Linked DNA regions of Homo sapiens: region 1 is linked to region 2. A link means that fine-mapping ties the variant in region 2 to the expression of a gene that starts in the linked region. Tissue or cell type: skeletal muscle. Region 2 holds a variant in brackets; the other region holds the start of a gene. All regions are shown on one strand. Distances are between the middles of the regions.

Region 1 (8,093 bases), 880 kb after region 2:
TCTGTCTCCATCAACCAAGGGGTCATGCTGGTAAGAGCTTTAAGGACCCTGCTGACCTGACTCTGGGGAGGCTTCCCTGGGCTGTGCCTTGGAGGCTCACGCATCCATCCCATTGCAGCTCTTACCCTTGGGTGCTCACACGTAGATGCCAACCCAGAGCAGCAGGAAGAGGACTCCAAAGCCCATGAAGAGTGAGGCCACTAAGGAGATGAGGAGCTCTTTATAGATATCACGAGTGTACTTGGTAGAGGTGACCTCGTAACTGGGCACAGCAGTTAAGGCAAAGCGAAGGGGTGGACTGTGGAGTGCAGAGAGCCCAGCCCACGGCAATCTGAGGAGAAAAGCATTGGCTCAATGCCTTCTGGGAGGCCTATCTGGCTCAGAGCAGCCAGGCAGAGGGGCCTAAGAGATGCCTTGGACTCTGGTGCTCCACTGCCATGAAGAAAATGAGACCCAGAGGAGTTAGGTCACTTGCCCCAGGTCACACAGCTCATGAGGGCCGGAGCTGGGACTAGCCCTCAGACCTCCTGACACCTGAGTGCACCCTTCCTTATACCACCTTTCCAACTGTAGCACCCCTATTCCCCACCTCCACTCCAGCCAGGTCCCCTGCTCACTGTCCTGGAAATCCAAAGAACAAACTGAGCTCACCTGAACTTGGGAAATAAGGCTATAACCTGCCCCTGGGCATCACTAGCCCTCCTCTCCTCCTTACCTTCTCTCAGCCCCAATCCAATGTACAAAACCGGCGGGGTCCATGTACCTAGCGTGGTTTCTCCCTGAGCTTCCCACATCACTAATGCTGGTCCTCTGGCTGCTCAGTGAAAGGATACACGAAGAACCAGGCGGTGAAGAACATGCCAATGGCCAAAAGCACCACGGTCAGATGGGGGAAGACAGCTGGGTTCACTGGGCTGGTATATCTGCTCATGGCCTCGAGCTCCTAGAGGAGGGAAAGAGATCAGAGCTATCAAAGAATCCCACGATTTCAGCCTGGAGAGAACATGCGGTTATCAAGGAGCCTGGTGCTGCCGTGAAACAGAGGCTGATTTTAGCCCGGAAATGTAGCTGCAGATCAATGGCCCTTATTAGCATTTTCTGAGGCCAATAATCTGACCACTATGAAAACGTGACTAAAGGTACGAACTCTCTGCCTGAGAAAAACCACATACAAGAAAAAGTTTGCCTACAATTTCCGGAGCTTTGTGGACCAGTGTCTATAGACACCAAGCTGAGAACCCCCGCTATAAGTCACTGACTGGTGGTACCCAGATCTCAATATCTTTTTTTTTTGACGGAGTCTCATTTTTTGGACGGCGTCTCACTCTGTCGCCCGGGCTGGAGGGCAGTGGCACGATCTCGGCTCACTGCAACCTCTGCCTCCCGGGTTCTAGAGATTCTCATACCTCAGCCTCTCGAGTAGCTGGGACTATAGGATTACAGGTGCGCACCACCACATCTAATTTTTGTATTTTTAGTAGAGATGGGGTTTTGCCATGCTGGCCAGGATGGTCTTGAATTCCTGACCTCAGGTGATCTGCCTGCCTCGGCCTCCCAAAGTACTGAGATTACAGGTGTGAGTTGCCGCGCCCAGGCTCAATTTTTTTTTTTTTCCAGACAGTCTTGCTCTATCGCCCAGGCTGGAGTGCCTGGAGTGCAGTGGTGCCAACTCGGCTCACTGCAAGCTCCGCCTTCTGGGTTCAAGTGATTATCCTGCCTCAGCCTCCCGAGCAGCTGGGATTACAGGCGTGAACCACCATGCCCGGCTAATTTTTTGTATTTTTAGGAGAGACAGGGTTTCACCTTGCTGGCCAGGCTGGTCTTGAACTTCTGACCTCCTGATCCGCTCGCCTCAGCCTCCCAAAGTGCTGGGATTACAGGAGTGAACCACCGCGCCTGGCCCTCAATTTCTAATTCAGTATTTTCCTCACTACCTATGCTATTATGGAATCTTGTGAGCTATGGTCAAGACATTCAAGTTCTGGTTCTGAGTAATCTGAGTCTGAGTAAAGCGACTGTAATATCTATTTCACAGAACTGAAAAATAAGAAAGATGATGAATCAAAGCATCTAGTGCCTAGCAGGGAGTATTTTGCTCAACAGGTATTTGCTTCCTTCCTAAGGCTGTAGGGAAGATGATGAGATAATGTCTTTTATGAAAGAGGGCTGTAAACGTAAAGATCTGTACAAATGTTAACTTCATTGTCACCGGTCAGCCAATGCTTCTAAAATCCAGAACATAACAACTCTAGAGAAGTAAACTGCCCCCATTGTTCTGAGACACTGGAATTCAATTCAGTAAACAATCACGGCCCCCTTCCCCCAAAATGATAAAGACAATCACTGCCATTTATTGAGCTTCCAATTACGGGCCCTCTGTTTGGCACTGAGAATACAAAGATGAATAGACATCATCCCAGAGCTAGATGCGCGTCAGACGGTGGTCACTAGGAGGCGTGGCCGAAAACAAAGAAGTCCATGGAACGTGGCCAGAGATCTGTACAGAGGCTGTGGGCGCTCCTAGGAAAGTCTGGCCAAGTGCCTGAGAGTTGGAAGTGCTTCACCAATAAACATTTGCCCAGGGCATTGTAGGATGGGCACGGGTTCGGCAGAAGAACTTTCCAAATAAAGATAACACACCACCGATAACAGAGATATACAAACTGGAAGGTATTCAAAATTCGCCCCACGCCTCTCGCCCTTAGAAATCGCGAGCTGAGAAACCTAAGGAGTTCATGGCAAGGGGCTTCCCCCTTCCCCACCCTTCAGCCCAAGCCGGAGGTTCCAGGAGCGTCTAGCCCTCTGGATCTCCGGCGTCTGAGGAGATAAGCGCGGTGTGGGTCAGACCCCGAGGGGTCCTCGCATCTCCGTCTGGAACTCCCCTCAACGCTCTCACCATTTTGCCCCGCGAAGGCTAATCCGCCGCTCCGCCACCGGAAGAACACGTCGGCAGGAGCAGGCGCCTAGCACAACCGGAAAAGGAAGTGCCTCCGGCGCAAGTGGCATTGAGGGACTTGTAGTCCTGCGATTTCGGGTGTAGAGGGAGCAGGGGCCTGCGGGGACCTGGTGTGGGTGGAGTGGGGACAAGCGGTGGAGAAGGGTACGCCAGGGTCGCTGAGAGACTCTGTTCTCCCTGGAGGGACTGGTTGCCATGAGAGCAGCCGTCTGAGGGGACGCAGCCTGCACTACGCGCCCCAAGAGGCTGTGCGTGGCGAGCAGGTCACGTGACGGGAGCGCGGGCTTTGGAAGGCGGCTGAACGTCAGGCCACCCGCCGCTAAGCTGAGAAGGGAGAGCGAGCTTAGGACCGCCTGCCCGGGGCAACCCCGAACCAAGCTTTAGCCGCCGAGGCCGCGTGTCCCAAAGGCCAGGTGAGACCCCATGGGAAGCGCCTCCGGGAGCGACGGGGTCCGCTTGGCGCTGGGGGCCGTGGGGAGCCGGGGTCTGGAGTGCGCGGGATTCGCAGTCAAGAGGTCCCGCCACTTTTCCCCCTGTGAGCCTTGGGCCAGTCGCGTAAGCTCCGAGCCTCTCTTTCCTCCATTGTAGAAAAGCGGTAATAAGTTCCACCTTATGGGGTCGTGTTGTATTTTTCCTAAGACCTTGGACGAGAAACATTTCTGACACTTGAGTTGTTTAGGCCCCTTTCCTGCCTACCTGTCTGTGGGACGCCGTGAGGGGATCAAGGGCTACATGGTCTGGTCCTCAGTCCACACTCCAGCAGCGCGGCCGGCTTGAGGCAAGAGCCGAAGGGTTGAACAGGCCTGGAGAGGGGACATTAGAGGTTTCTGTCTGTTGTCTCAGTTAACCCTGGCAGCAGCCCTGAGAGACAGGCATGGTAATCGTTCTTCTTCTGTAGACGAGAAAATAAACCTCAGTGGCTTGGTAATGTCACACGGATGGTAAATGCCGCGCCTAGATTCAAGGCCAGAGCTTTTGCCGCTGCAGTTCACAGGGGAATTATTCATATTAATCAAATGAATAATTCATTGTCAATTAATTATTAATTGATTAATAATCCAGGGATGGACCTGGAAGGACGCGTGAGAGGATGGCGAGAGGAGGGCACAGCTAAGGAAAAGTGGGAAAAGGCGGGCCTTATTCCAGCTTTCTGTTGAGATCCCAGAATGTAGGGTTAGGTTGGGAACCAGAACATGAAAGATCGTGATGCCATGCTGAAGTGTTTGGACTGAATTAGAAGGAAGAATTGAACAGTCATTGATGCTCTAGAAAGAACCCTGTGAAGAAAGAGTGGGAACAATGAAAAGGCCTGATGGAGTCTTTCGTTTCTTCTTTCTCTTTTCTTTTGTCTTCTTTTCTTTTCTTGACAGGGTCTTGCTCTGTTGCCCAGGCTGGAGTGTGGTGGCACAATCATAGCTCACTGTAGCCTGGAACTCCTGGGCTCATGTGATCCTCCCACCACGGCCTCCCAAAGTGCTGGGATTACTGCCCAGAGCCTCTGTGCCTGGCCCCAGTAGAATATTTCTTGGAGTATTGGACACATACCAACAGTGGGCACAAGATGAGTTTTTTATTTTTTTGAGACGGAGTCTCACTCTCTTGCTAGGCTGGAGTGCAGCGGCACAATCTCGGCTCACTGCATTCTCTGCCTCCTGGGTTCAAGCGATTCTCCTGCCTCAGCCTCCCGAGTAGCTGGGATTACAGGTGCACACCACCACACCCAGCTAATTTTTTTTTTTTTTGTATTTTTAGTAGAGACAGGGTTTCACCGTGTTGGCCAGGATGGCAAGATGATTTTAAATTGCACCCCCTAAAAATCCTTTTTAATAGTTATACATTTAATACATATTAAAATATAACTAATAGAACACAAATATTATTGCTTATGAGTTTTCCAGTTTAGTTTTTTAAAAAAAATTCTAAGTGAATGAAAGTACGGGTTTTAGTTGGAAGTAGCAAAAATCGTGAGGGTGATTTGGGAAACACTGCTATCTGGGAAACACTGAACTCTGAAGTGCAATACTCTTTTGAGCCCAGTGACTACAGCATGCCAGACCCCTAAATCAGGACCTGGGGAGGAGCCATGGAGTTAACATTTCAGACTGAGTGGTGGCGAGAAAACGCAAAGGGAAAGACTTGAAACTCTAGCAACATTATAATAAAAGTAGAAACTCTTATGTGCTGAGGCGATGATGAAGAGAGTTTAGAGAAGCTTGTGAGAAAGCCACATCACCTCCATTCAGATATGTTTGCAATCCTTTTTCAAGGCTGCCTTATTAGTCAGGGTTCTCCAGAGACTCAAAACAAATCAGATCTGTTTGTTTAGCTGGTGTATTTGCCTGTCTTTCAGGTCTGCCATTATGGTCCCTGGACTCCTCAAGCCAGGCCAAGCATCCTGGCCTTCTGTGGTCCTTGATGGAGACCTATGTTGCAGGTTTTTTTTGTGTAATAAATAATGCTGCTACCTTAGAATATCAACAGTATCTTATTTCTCTAAGCACGTGGTTCAATTTCTGGTACTCGTTGAGCCTTACTATTGAGTAAATTCTCCTGCTAGACTGAGTTTTTTGAGAATGGGGACCTTGTTCATCTTTTTATCTTTAGCAGTGCTGACATGGTGTCCTTTTTGTTGTGTGGAATTTAGTTGAAGGCATGAAGTTGGTGAGATAACACCAGTTATAACCTTTCTCCTTTCCTCCGTCTCTGACTTGCCTTTCTTTTTTAGTCATCCCTCCTCTGTGTTGCCATGGGAATTCAAGGCCTGGCCAAACTAATTGCTGATGTGGCCCCCAGTGCCATCCGGGAGAATGACATCAAGAGCTACTTTGGCCGTAAGGTGGCCATTGATGCCTCTATGAGCATTTATCAGTTCCTGATTGCTGTTCGCCAGGGTGGGGATGTGCTGCAGAATGAGGAGGGTGAGACCACCAGCCACCTGATGGGCATGTTCTACCGCACCATTCGCATGATGGAGAACGGCATCAAGCCCGTGTATGTCTTTGATGGCAAGCCGCCACAGCTCAAGTCAGGCGAGCTGGCCAAACGCAGTGAGCGGCGGGCTGAGGCAGAGAAGCAGCTGCAGCAGGCTCAGGCTGCTGGGGCCGAGCAGGAGGTGGAAAAATTCACTAAGCGGCTGGTGAAGGTCACTAAGCAGCACAATGATGAGTGCAAACATCTGCTGAGCCTCATGGGCATCCCTTATCTTGATGCACCCAGTGAGGCAGAGGCCAGCTGTGCTGCCCTGGTGAAGGCTGGCAAAGTCTATGCTGCGGCTACCGAGGACATGGACTGCCTCACCTTCGGCAGCCCTGTGCTAATGCGACACCTGACTGCCAGTGAAGCCAAAAAGCTGCCAATCCAGGAATTCCACCTGAGCCGGATTCTGCAGGAGCTGGGCCTGAACCAGGAACAGTTTGTGGATCTGTGCATCCTGCTAGGCAGTGACTACTGTGAGAGTATCCGGGGTATTGGGCCCAAGCGGGCTGTGGACCTCATCCAGAAGCACAAGAGCATCGAGGAGATCGTGCGGCGACTTGACCCCAACAAGTACCCTGTGCCAGAAAATTGGCTCCACAAGGAGGCTCACCAGCTCTTCTTGGAACCTGAGGTGCTGGACCCAGAGTCTGTGGAGCTGAAGTGGAGCGAGCCAAATGAAGAAGAGCTGATCAAGTTCATGTGTGGTGAAAAGCAGTTCTCTGAGGAGCGAATCCGCAGTGGGGTCAAGAGGCTGAGTAAGAGCCGCCAAGGCAGCACCCAGGGCCGCCTGGATGATTTCTTCAAGGTGACCGGCTCACTCTCTTCAGCTAAGCGCAAGGAGCCAGAACCCAAGGGATCCACTAAGAAGAAGGCAAAGACTGGGGCAGCAGGGAAGTTTAAAAGGGGAAAATAAATGTGTTTCCCCATTATACCTCCTTCACCCCAGAATATTTGCCGTCTTGTACCCTTAAGAGCTACAGCTAGAGAAACCTTCACGGGGTGGAGAGAGGATTCTAAGGCTTTTCTAGCGTGACCCTTTTCAGTAGTGCTAGTCCCTTTTTTACTTGATCTTAATGGCAAGAAGGCCACAGAGGTACTTTTCCTTTTTTAGCTCAGGAAAATATGTCAGGCTCAAACCACTTCTCAGGCAGTTTAATGGACACTAAGTCCATTGTTACATGAAAGTGATAGATAGCAACAAGTTTTGGAGAAGAGAGAGGGAGATAAAAGGGGGAGACAAAAGATGTACAGAAATGATTTCCTGGCTGGCCAACTGGTGGCCAGTGGGAGGTGATGGTGGACCTAGACTGTGCTTTTCTGTCTTGTTCAGCCTTGACCCACCTTGAGAGAGAGCCACCAGGAAGGCGCATCTTAGCAGATGGGAGGAACTGCTGAGAGAAGATGGGCAGAAAGCTGGAGCCCCTGGAGTTGGCTGTGTCTGTGTTTGTGACTGATTACTGGCTGTGTCTTGGGTGGGCAGAAACTCGAACTTGCTATGTAATTTGTGTCTAGTTATTCAGAGGAGTAAGATGGTGATGTTCACCTGGCAATCAGCTGAGTTGAGACTTTGGAATAAGACACTGGTTTTCATGCGCTGTTTTTGTTTTAAAGTTATGAAGAAAAAAGTCAATAAAATTCTAAAAGTAACCAAAATGTCATGTTCTTTGAGAACATTTGAAAATATCCCAAGTGACCATGGCTCCAAATAGCTTTCCTTTTCACTCTTAACATGCTGTAATTGCACTTGATTAACAATGGGTGGTTTGAGAGTGGCCACAAGATGGCACCATGCTCCATAAAATGGCCATAGCAGCTAGATGGAACTTCAGCCATTAGGAGGAGGATGTTTTGTTTATTTTATTTTGCTGGGAGAGGAGTTTTAATACGTTGAATAGATTTCTAGTCTCTCACTCCATGAGATCAAAGGAGTGCCTTTAAGAAAGCCTCACAATTTAGATCAACTACCTCATAACATCCAAGCATTTACTTTGCCACTACTTGTAAACTGAAAGCTGCCATTCAGAAACCATTTTCTTGTTCCTTTTGTAACATCAAATCCAAGATACTGTTTCCCATAGAGATGGCATGTTTTTGAGCTTTGAAAGTTTTATAATCCTGATAAAGCTTGGCCCATTTGAATGTCTGACGTTTTAGCATTCCT
Region 2 (8,102 bases):
TTGGGTGGTGATTGGGCTGGCAGCACAACAGCATGTGTTTGCATTTGAGCTATGGAGTGATAACCATACTTTCAGAAGTTTCCTCTGGAAGACACTTACTGGATGGGTTGGAGTGGGACAGACTAGAAGGAGGGAGACTCAGTAATTAATTGTTGAACCAATCTTTATTGAGTACCCATAGCGTGTCAGCCCGGCACGATACTAGGTGTTGGTAGTATCACAATGAGCAAAACCAGAGGTGTCCCTCTACTGGGGAGTTTATGGCTATGATAGCAGGATGCAGGAAAAAGGAAGTCCTGTCAAGGCTTTTCCGTTTCATAAGCCAGCCCACAGGGAATAGAAAAAATTCAGGGCACTTGGTTTCAGAGAAACAGGGAGAGTTAAGGGAAAAGAGATATATGCATTGGTGCTGGTGGGTCCCTGAGGAAGGAACTCTATGCCTTGTTCCTCCCAGACCAAAGCTGCTGTTGCTGCCTGGGGAGCATGGGGACACATTGGCCAAAGACCCAAAAGAAGCTTAATTTCCCAGGTATCTTCAGTAGCAATCTGTGTGGATAAGTGACAGAAGATTAGTCAGGGAGAAGTTGCCAGCTTAAACAACTGACACTGATAATTAGATGAATTTTCTTTTTTTCTTTTTTTTTACATGGAGTCTCACTCACTGTCACCCAGCTGGAGAGCAGTGGCGTGATCTTGGCTCACTGCAACCTCTGCCTTCTGGATTTAAGTGATTCTCCTGCCTCAGCCTCCTGAGTAGGGATTACAGCACACACCACCACACCTGGCTAGTTTTGTTTGGTATTTTTAGAGAGACAGGGTTTCATCATTTTGGCTAGGCTGGACTTGAACTCTTTCACCTCAAGTGATCCCTCTGCCTCAGTCTCCCAAAGTGCTGGGATTACAGGTGTGAGCCATTGCCCCCGGCCAGGATTAGATACATTTTCTCCCCCAACTTTGGCCCTATATTCATTTTCCAAAAGGTGTCTACGACCTGAAAATCAAGGATGGGAAGAACCCTGAACTGTCTGAGACTGTTTCTACTACCCACATGGAAAAGAGAGTTGAAAAGAAATTAATTTGTCATAGAAAAAAAAAAAGGTTAAATTTCTTTCCCAGGAAAGTCTGTGACCTGAGATTGTTAATCTTAGACATCAGAAAGGATCGCACAAGCAAATGTAAAATTGAAACTGTTAGAAAAGCTGGAAGGTGAGGTTTAGGATGCTACCAGAGCCTGTCCTGGAAGAAGGACTCTTAGCTGAGGGGCAGGAAGTGACAAGAGCTCAGATGAAGATGGATGTGTCTGAGGAACATCTGATGGAAAGAAACAACTGGGTGAGGTGACAGATTGGGAGCCTACAGAGTGTGTACTCTAGGAGGAAGGCAGAACTGGAAGGCTGAATGGTTGGGGGTGGGAGGGAAGAGTTACGTTTTAGAGGGTTGAGTTTGAGAAACAAGTTTTAACATCAAAAGGAAGCTCTCCTATGACAGCTCTTGATGGTGATAAAAACATTCAGTCAGCAACCTGGATTTTTTTTTTTTTTTTTAATGTTCATGCTTGTTGCTTCCTTGAAACTTCACACCTACTGTGAAGTGGTATTTTTAGGTCCTTTATAGTTCTTGAACGTCAAGCAATGAAGGCTCAGAGAAATGAAGCTGTGTGCTCAGGATCACACGACAGGCAAGAGATCACCTCATTCTGAAGCCCTGTTCATTCTCCTTCACGGTGCTGCTGAAGCAGGATATTGCCCTGACCTTTCACAGGACTCACAACAGGGGTGCCCCGTTTACTCAGCCCGCTGCTCTCAACTCCTCATGGGAGGGAGTACGCAAGTGAACAAGGCGGGAACTGGAGTGCACAAGCGCTGGAACAAGCCAGCCGTTTTTCAGCACCAGTGGGATCACACTCCACTCACTCAAGATTCACCGCGTTCCACCCCTCATAGGAGGGAGCGTGCAGGTGAGTGGGTGCAGGAGCCAGAGCGTGCGCTTTTGGACACCGGCAGGAGCGAACTCCGTGCAGGCCCCGGGGCAGTGTCCAGGCAGAGTGCCTGAGGCTCCTGAAGCCCCAGAGGGCATGTTACAGTGTTCTTTTGGCTCTGTCGTCCGTGGACAGCTTAAGTGTTAACAGCTCCGTGGGCCCGCGGTTGCCCTCCACCAGCAAGGGCAGAGGGCCAGCGTGACAGCTTTTGTATCCGCACTCGTGGCTCCCGAGCTCTTGTCCAGCGTCCAAGAAAAATAAAGCTGCACGAACAAATTAAAGGACAAATGCCTGGGATTTTATTGCTGATCAAAGTGGATTTCAGAGGGAAGGTGAGCTGAAAAGAGGGGGGTGGGACAGGCCGGTATGTAGTCTTCCCTTGAAGTCCAGCTATCTCCAGCCAGATTCGTCTCAGAAGTTACGCCTTAAGCTGTCCCTCTGAAGACAAGCTGCTTCTCTCTGACATCCAGCCATGGTCGTCCCCTCATCCAGCTGCTTCTCCTCTCTGCCAGATGAGTCTGGGGTCTTTCTAGGCACAGGATGAGGCAGGGCAGAGCCATGGGTGGCTTAGGAAAAGGCAACATTCAACTGGAAAAACATGGATAGAAGTTCTCACTTTGGGCCATGGTTTCAGGCTTTTTGGCTTGAGGGTGGGGTTTCACCAGGGACCCGCTCTTTTCTACCTAGCATTTATCTGCCTCCTGTCCCTATGCACTGCCTTTGTGGCAGAAAAAGGAGAGTGAGAGTTGGTTCCTCTCTTTCTCTGAAATTCTGAGCTAACATTTGGGAGCCGTCTACAGTATTCAGGTATGAATTTTCTCTCTGGGGGAGCGCATTCGTTTTCCTAGAGCAGTGTGCTTTTAATTGCTCCTTTAATATCTTTCTCTTTTGTGCCTTTTTAGCGCGAAAAGTGTATGGGAAGACTAGGTGCTCGTTAGCGGCTCGGTTAGAACTACATTGCCCACAATGCCCCAGGGAACATTTGTAGCTCTAGAACTACATGACCCAAAATGCCGAGTGGTGGCAAGAGGAGGATTAGCTTCCACTCCGATTTCAAAGATCCAGTTTACCCACTCTACAGCCCAGATATAGTCACTTATTTCCCCTTTCCAGCCAGAGACTTCCGTTCCCTGCTGGAACTTCCGATCCCATTCTTCTCTCGGTGGGAATGCTTGTGGGGGGAAAAAGAAACGCAATAGATAAAGCGGGGCGCATGCGCTCCCGGCACAGGCTTCGATTGTGAGGAAGGCCGGCTAGTCTCCGAGCTCATCCCGCCTTGCGCATGCGGAGAAGGTAAACCAGCGCCCCGAGTTGAGGCGCGGGTTTGGTGGCGCGTTTCAGCGAAGTCGCACGTGAAGGATAGCAGTGGCCTGAGAAAGGTGAGAGCGGGCCGAGGTCGGAATGTGGGGCAGCGCACGGGAAGGGGAGACAGCAGCCGCTGCAGGCGGCACCAGGCGGAGCCGCGAGGCCTGGAGAGTCCGAGTGGGGAGGGGTCCGCGCGCCCAGCGTGCGAAACAAACCGGGGACCCGGATCCCCGTTGCTATGCAACCGGGGGCGTCGTTTCCAGGCAACCCGGGAGGCGCACGTTTCCGGGGAGAAGAGGGTTGCGGCGAGGTTCCGAGGTCCGGCAGAGGTGGAGCGGCTCCCGGGCGTGGGGACCAGGCCAGCGCCAAGCCCGAGCCCCCGAACCCCGACCCACGGCCCAGCCTCCTGCAGCCTCGGCTCGAGCCCTTCGGGGGGCCCCAAACTCATGGGTCGCGCCACGTTCCTTGCCAGCGACGCTACCCCTCAGCGCTTGGCAGGGGACGCGCCGTTCGAAATAGCACATGCCACTGACACCCTGTCTCCGGGAGGCTGCGCCCCGGTTAGGGCGCGGAGCGGCAGGGAAGCTGCCCCTTTGCCGTCGCCCTGCCCCCAAACAGTTGCTGGGCAGCAGCTGTCAGGGGTTTAGTGGGAGCTGCCCCCAACCTGCCAGGGCGCTGACTTCATTCTCTGCAGTGGCGGCTTCGCCTTGTTTAGGACCTTCCTTTAGACTCAGCTGTGCTTCTCGTGTGGCTGCTGTATATTTGGATCTACTATTAAAATAACCTCCCTCCTCACCTCTCCATGGCTTTCTCGTTCGACCCTCACGGTTTCTTGGCAGGTTGCTAATATTCATTTAATAAACATTTATTAGTCATCTTTCCTACTAGGCGCTGGGGATTCCAACATGTCAAGTCTAACCGGGAGTCGCTCGGTCTACTGGGGAAGGCAGGTTGATAAACTGCTAAATTATGCTACGATATATAGTCAGTGGTAATGTGTGTGCTGCAACATTTCTATAGATGTTTAGTTTACAAAGCGCTTGCTGCAGAAATATCTTAACTCCTTACAGCAACTCTTCACCTGGGTTCACTCCCTTTTACGTTTGAGGAGACTGCAACTCAGGCAGGTTAAGTAACAGGCGTAAGGTAGTAGCTTCTAGTCCGTGGCACACTTGAGCCTGGGACGGAAGTCAGGGGTCCTTTGTACACTGCTGCACTTTTGAAGCTTTGCTTAGACTTTTCCCTGAGCTGCTGGCTATGCATCCGAAATTCCTG[A/C]GGAGCTTTGCAAAACAAAGGGCTGAGTCCCTCTCTGGAAGAGTCTGAGTGAGTAGCCCTGGGTGGGGCAGACGTCCTTGTTTAACAGGCTGCACAGGCAGTTCCGATGGGCAGCCAAAGTTGAGAACCGCCGCTCCTTAGGGGCAGCTATGAGCAGCGGCGGGACAGTCAGAGCCGGTAGAGGGCACTTTTTGCCGCCCCTCCTGCCACCTGGTGATTCATAGCATGAAATGAAACTAACAAAAGGAAAGAGAAGAGGAGGAAGGAGCCTTGATTGGGAGGGGGGGGCGCGAAATGCCCCATCCTACCCTTGTAGCAAACCACAGCTAAACATAAGCAGTGGCGCCTTCTCACTAACACAATAAGTAAAGCTGTTTCCCCAGCCAGGCTGGGCTCTCCAGACCCACCTGAGCCATATTGCAGCTGCCGAACAGAAGTGGCAGGTTTTGTCTCCCACCTTTTGCTGTCCTCTCATACCTCTTGGTACAAAACCATGGCCTGTAAGCCCAGAAGGCAGATGGTCTCCTGGTATGTGTTCCCTCGGAGGAGTCTGGATGTCCTTCCACTTTGAGCTTGTTGGTGAACTTCAGCTCCATGAGGGCAGGGACTATGTCCACTATCAAGGCAGCATGCGGGTATGGGACAAGCAAAAAGGCAAGATTGAGATCCTGGGTACTGGAGTCAAGTCCCAGCTCTGCTGTGTGATCTTGGATAAGTCACTCAACCTCTCTAAGCCATACTTTTCTGAGTAAGATGAAGAGGGTAATAATACCTTAAAAGATTGTTGTTAGAGTTAAATGAAGTGATGAAACAATAAGCACTCTGTGAATTATAAAGCACCACACAAAAATTATTATAACATATGTATATGTATAGATATGTATAACATTTGTATTATTATGAGTTGTTAATTGAGTGCCTATTATTTGTCTGAGGCCAGGCATTGCAGAAGGTGAAGAAGTTTTAAGACATGCTTCCTCCTCTCAGAGGCTGAGACTGTTTCCATGCCTTTAGTAAAACTATTTGATTAGGCCAAAGTGAGGAGGCCTAATAGCAGTGAGTCCATACTGCCTGAGATTCACCTGGAAAAAAATGAGAAGGAATCCTATTAAAGAAAACAATTTGAAAAAGCAGACCAGCCAGCCAATCTCTGCACTCATTATCTCCAAAGGATACACTACACAATCCTGTTAGGTTTGGTATCTGGTGCACTTCAGAACATCAGTCTGCATAACGATGCCAGCCTCACTGCAGAGGGCTTATTTCAAGGTCTCCTAGCTCCCCTTAACTGGGGCAGACAGCCACTGGAGAGTTGGGGCTGGCACAGAACAAGGCAGGCTGCTGTGGGAGGAGCAGCTTATGGCACCCTGACCTCCTAGGGCTGAGGAAACGATATTTGATCCCTCCTGGTGGAGGTCCTTGGATAAAGGATCCAACCCAAGATAGCAACCCTGCTCTTTTAAGTCCCCAACATGGTTATGACCCAGATAGCTCAGGAACTCACCTGTGCTTTCCTCATCTGCGACCACTGGCAGGCAGGAACCATCTGGTTCTTGATTTGTGCCAAAGACAGTAGAAGGCTTTCCCAGCCTGAGGGCCTTCTACATGAATTGCATGTTTTTCAGCCTTGCTTGACCCTCCAGGCTTCTGGAAGGGCTTAGAGCAGCTGTTTCTGGACCAAAAAGTACCCTAAATGTAGTATTTTTAGAACCCTTTCCTAGACTCTCCTCCTTCCCCCTAAGCAAGACTAGGACATCATTCTCTTCCTTCTCCATCCCTCATGGCTCTGGATTTATTGTCAACTCCCTGAGTGCCTGTGTAACTGCAAAAAGTTCAAAAACCTGACTGCTCCTACCTCAGGGGCATGGCTTAGCCTCTGATCATCAGGTCTGAATCATGAAAACTCCTGGAGCTACAGGTTCATTTCTGAACCTGGAGGGGAACAGGGAATTTGCTGGCGCTGTCTGACATTTCTCAAGCACAGTGGCAAGTAGAAGTTGAACTTGTGTACTTTTTCTTGGCTGATCCTTACCTGCTTCAATGAGTTGGCACTTGTTGGGTCTTAACTTGTCTGTGGCATTGTGTTACAAGACCAGAGCACAAAGCACAAAGTTGTTAGGTAATTTTCACCAGTAATTCACTGAGATGATTGGTAGATGCCAAGTTTATTTTAACTCATGAATAATCTGTTGTGTGACTTTTTTTTTTAAGCGTCTTGCTCTCTTGCCCAGGATGGGATACAGTGGCATGATCATAGCTCACTGCAGCCGTGACCTCCTGGGCTCAAGTGATCCTCCCCCCTCAGCCTCCCAAATAGCTGGGAGTACAGGCACGCACCACCACACCTGACTAATTTATTTATTTATATTTATTTTGTAGAGACAGGGTCTCCTATGTTGCCCAGGCTGCTCCCAAACTCCTGGGCTCAAGCAATCCTCCCACCTCAGCCTCCCAAAGTGTTGGGATTACAGGAATGAGCCACTGTGCCTGGCCTGTATGACTTTCTAAATCACTTCTGAGACTTAGTTGGAGACAATACAGCAGAGTTGTTGTGTATGAGGGGTCCAATGTCAGAAGTACCTACATTCAAATGCTGATTTCCCCAGTTAATACTTAACCTGCCTCAATTACTTCAGTAAAATGGGGGATAATAGCAACACCTACCCGATGGGCTGTTGTGACAGTTAAATGAGCGCGGTGGTGCATGGCAAGACCTAGCTGAATGTTAGCTTTTTATTAATAGTATTTCTTTAAAGGTTGTTCATTATACCCTTGCTCACTGTCCTCGTCCATTTTCTGCTTCCTATAACAGAATGCCACTGCCTGCGTAGTTTATAATGAACAGAAATTCATTAGGGTCACAGTTCCAGAGGCTGGGAAGTCTAAGGGCATGGCGCTGGCATCTGGCAAGGGTCATCCTATGGCAGAAGGCAGAACCCAGCACATGAGACAGAGACAGGAAATCAGGCCAAAGTCATCCTTTTTATCAGGAGCTGCATTCCTGGGATAACTAATCCACTCCCAAGATAACGGCATTAATCCATTCATGAGGGCTGAACCCTCATAACCTAATCACCTCTTAAAGGTCCCACCTTTTAATACCATCATCATGGCAATTAAATTTCTTTCTTTTTTTTTTTTTTTTGGTGGAGAAGGGGTCAAACTATTTTACTGAGGGGAATGGGGTGTCAAAGAAGTACTTAGGACCATGAGATCCAACATCCTTGGCTGGACTGGGAGCTCCCAGGCTCTGCAGGAGGTGCAAGAACAGTTAAATTTCAACATGAGTTTTGCTCTTCAAACCATAGCACCTCCATTGGGGGTGGGGAGGTGAGGTCACTCTGTATCAGTGGTTCTCAACTTCATGCAGTGGAACTGCCTAGGGAGCTTTTGCAGATCCAAGGCTAGGCCACACCCAGACAATGATATCAGAACCTCTGGGCTGGGGACACAGACATCAGTACTTGGGAAGCTTCCAGGTGATTCCAGTGAGCAGCCATGGTTGAGACCCACAGTATAACTTGACTCCTAATGAAGATGGGTG

The links. PIP is the estimated chance that this variant, and not a neighbour inherited with it, causes the effect.
Region 1: FEN1 starts here. The variant in region 2 is fine-mapped to the expression of FEN1 in skeletal muscle (GTEx, PIP above 0.99).

Annotation. Positions count from the first base shown.
Region 1 is chr11:61,789,660-61,797,752 of GRCh38, forward strand. It overlaps FEN1 (flap structure-specific endonuclease 1), which reads left to right and starts at 3,252. Exons shown (of 2, transcript NM_004111.6): 1 at 3,252-3,369; 2 at 5,682-7,579. The coding sequence starts at 5,703. The coding sequence ends at 6,845. It overlaps TMEM258 (transmembrane protein 258), which reads right to left and starts at 2,940. Exons shown (of 4, transcript NM_014206.4): 1 at 2,897-2,940; 2 at 834-943; 3 at 126-262. The coding sequence starts at 2,899. The coding sequence ends at 136. It overlaps MIR611 (microRNA 611), which reads right to left and starts at 2,902; the gene lies at 2,836-2,902. RefSeq lists enhancers at 2,188-3,165, 2,958-3,252, 3,166-4,141, 5,687-6,187.
Region 2 is chr11:60,910,912-60,919,013 of GRCh38, forward strand. It overlaps TMEM109 (transmembrane protein 109), which reads left to right and starts at 3,247. Exons shown (of 4, transcript NM_024092.3): 1 at 3,247-3,357. It overlaps TMEM109-DT (TMEM109 divergent transcript), which reads right to left and starts at 3,152. Exons shown (of 2, transcript NR_186356.1): 1 at 3,049-3,152; 2 at 2,255-2,566. LOC124902676 (a long non-coding RNA gene) reads right to left here. Exons shown (of 2, transcript XR_007062688.1): 2 at 6,705-8,102. RefSeq lists enhancers at 1,486-2,484, 3,483-4,481, 3,876-4,045, 5,106-5,155, 7,926-8,102 and 1 more and a silencer at 3,536-3,695. The variant A/C (reference allele first, on the strand shown) is at 4,559.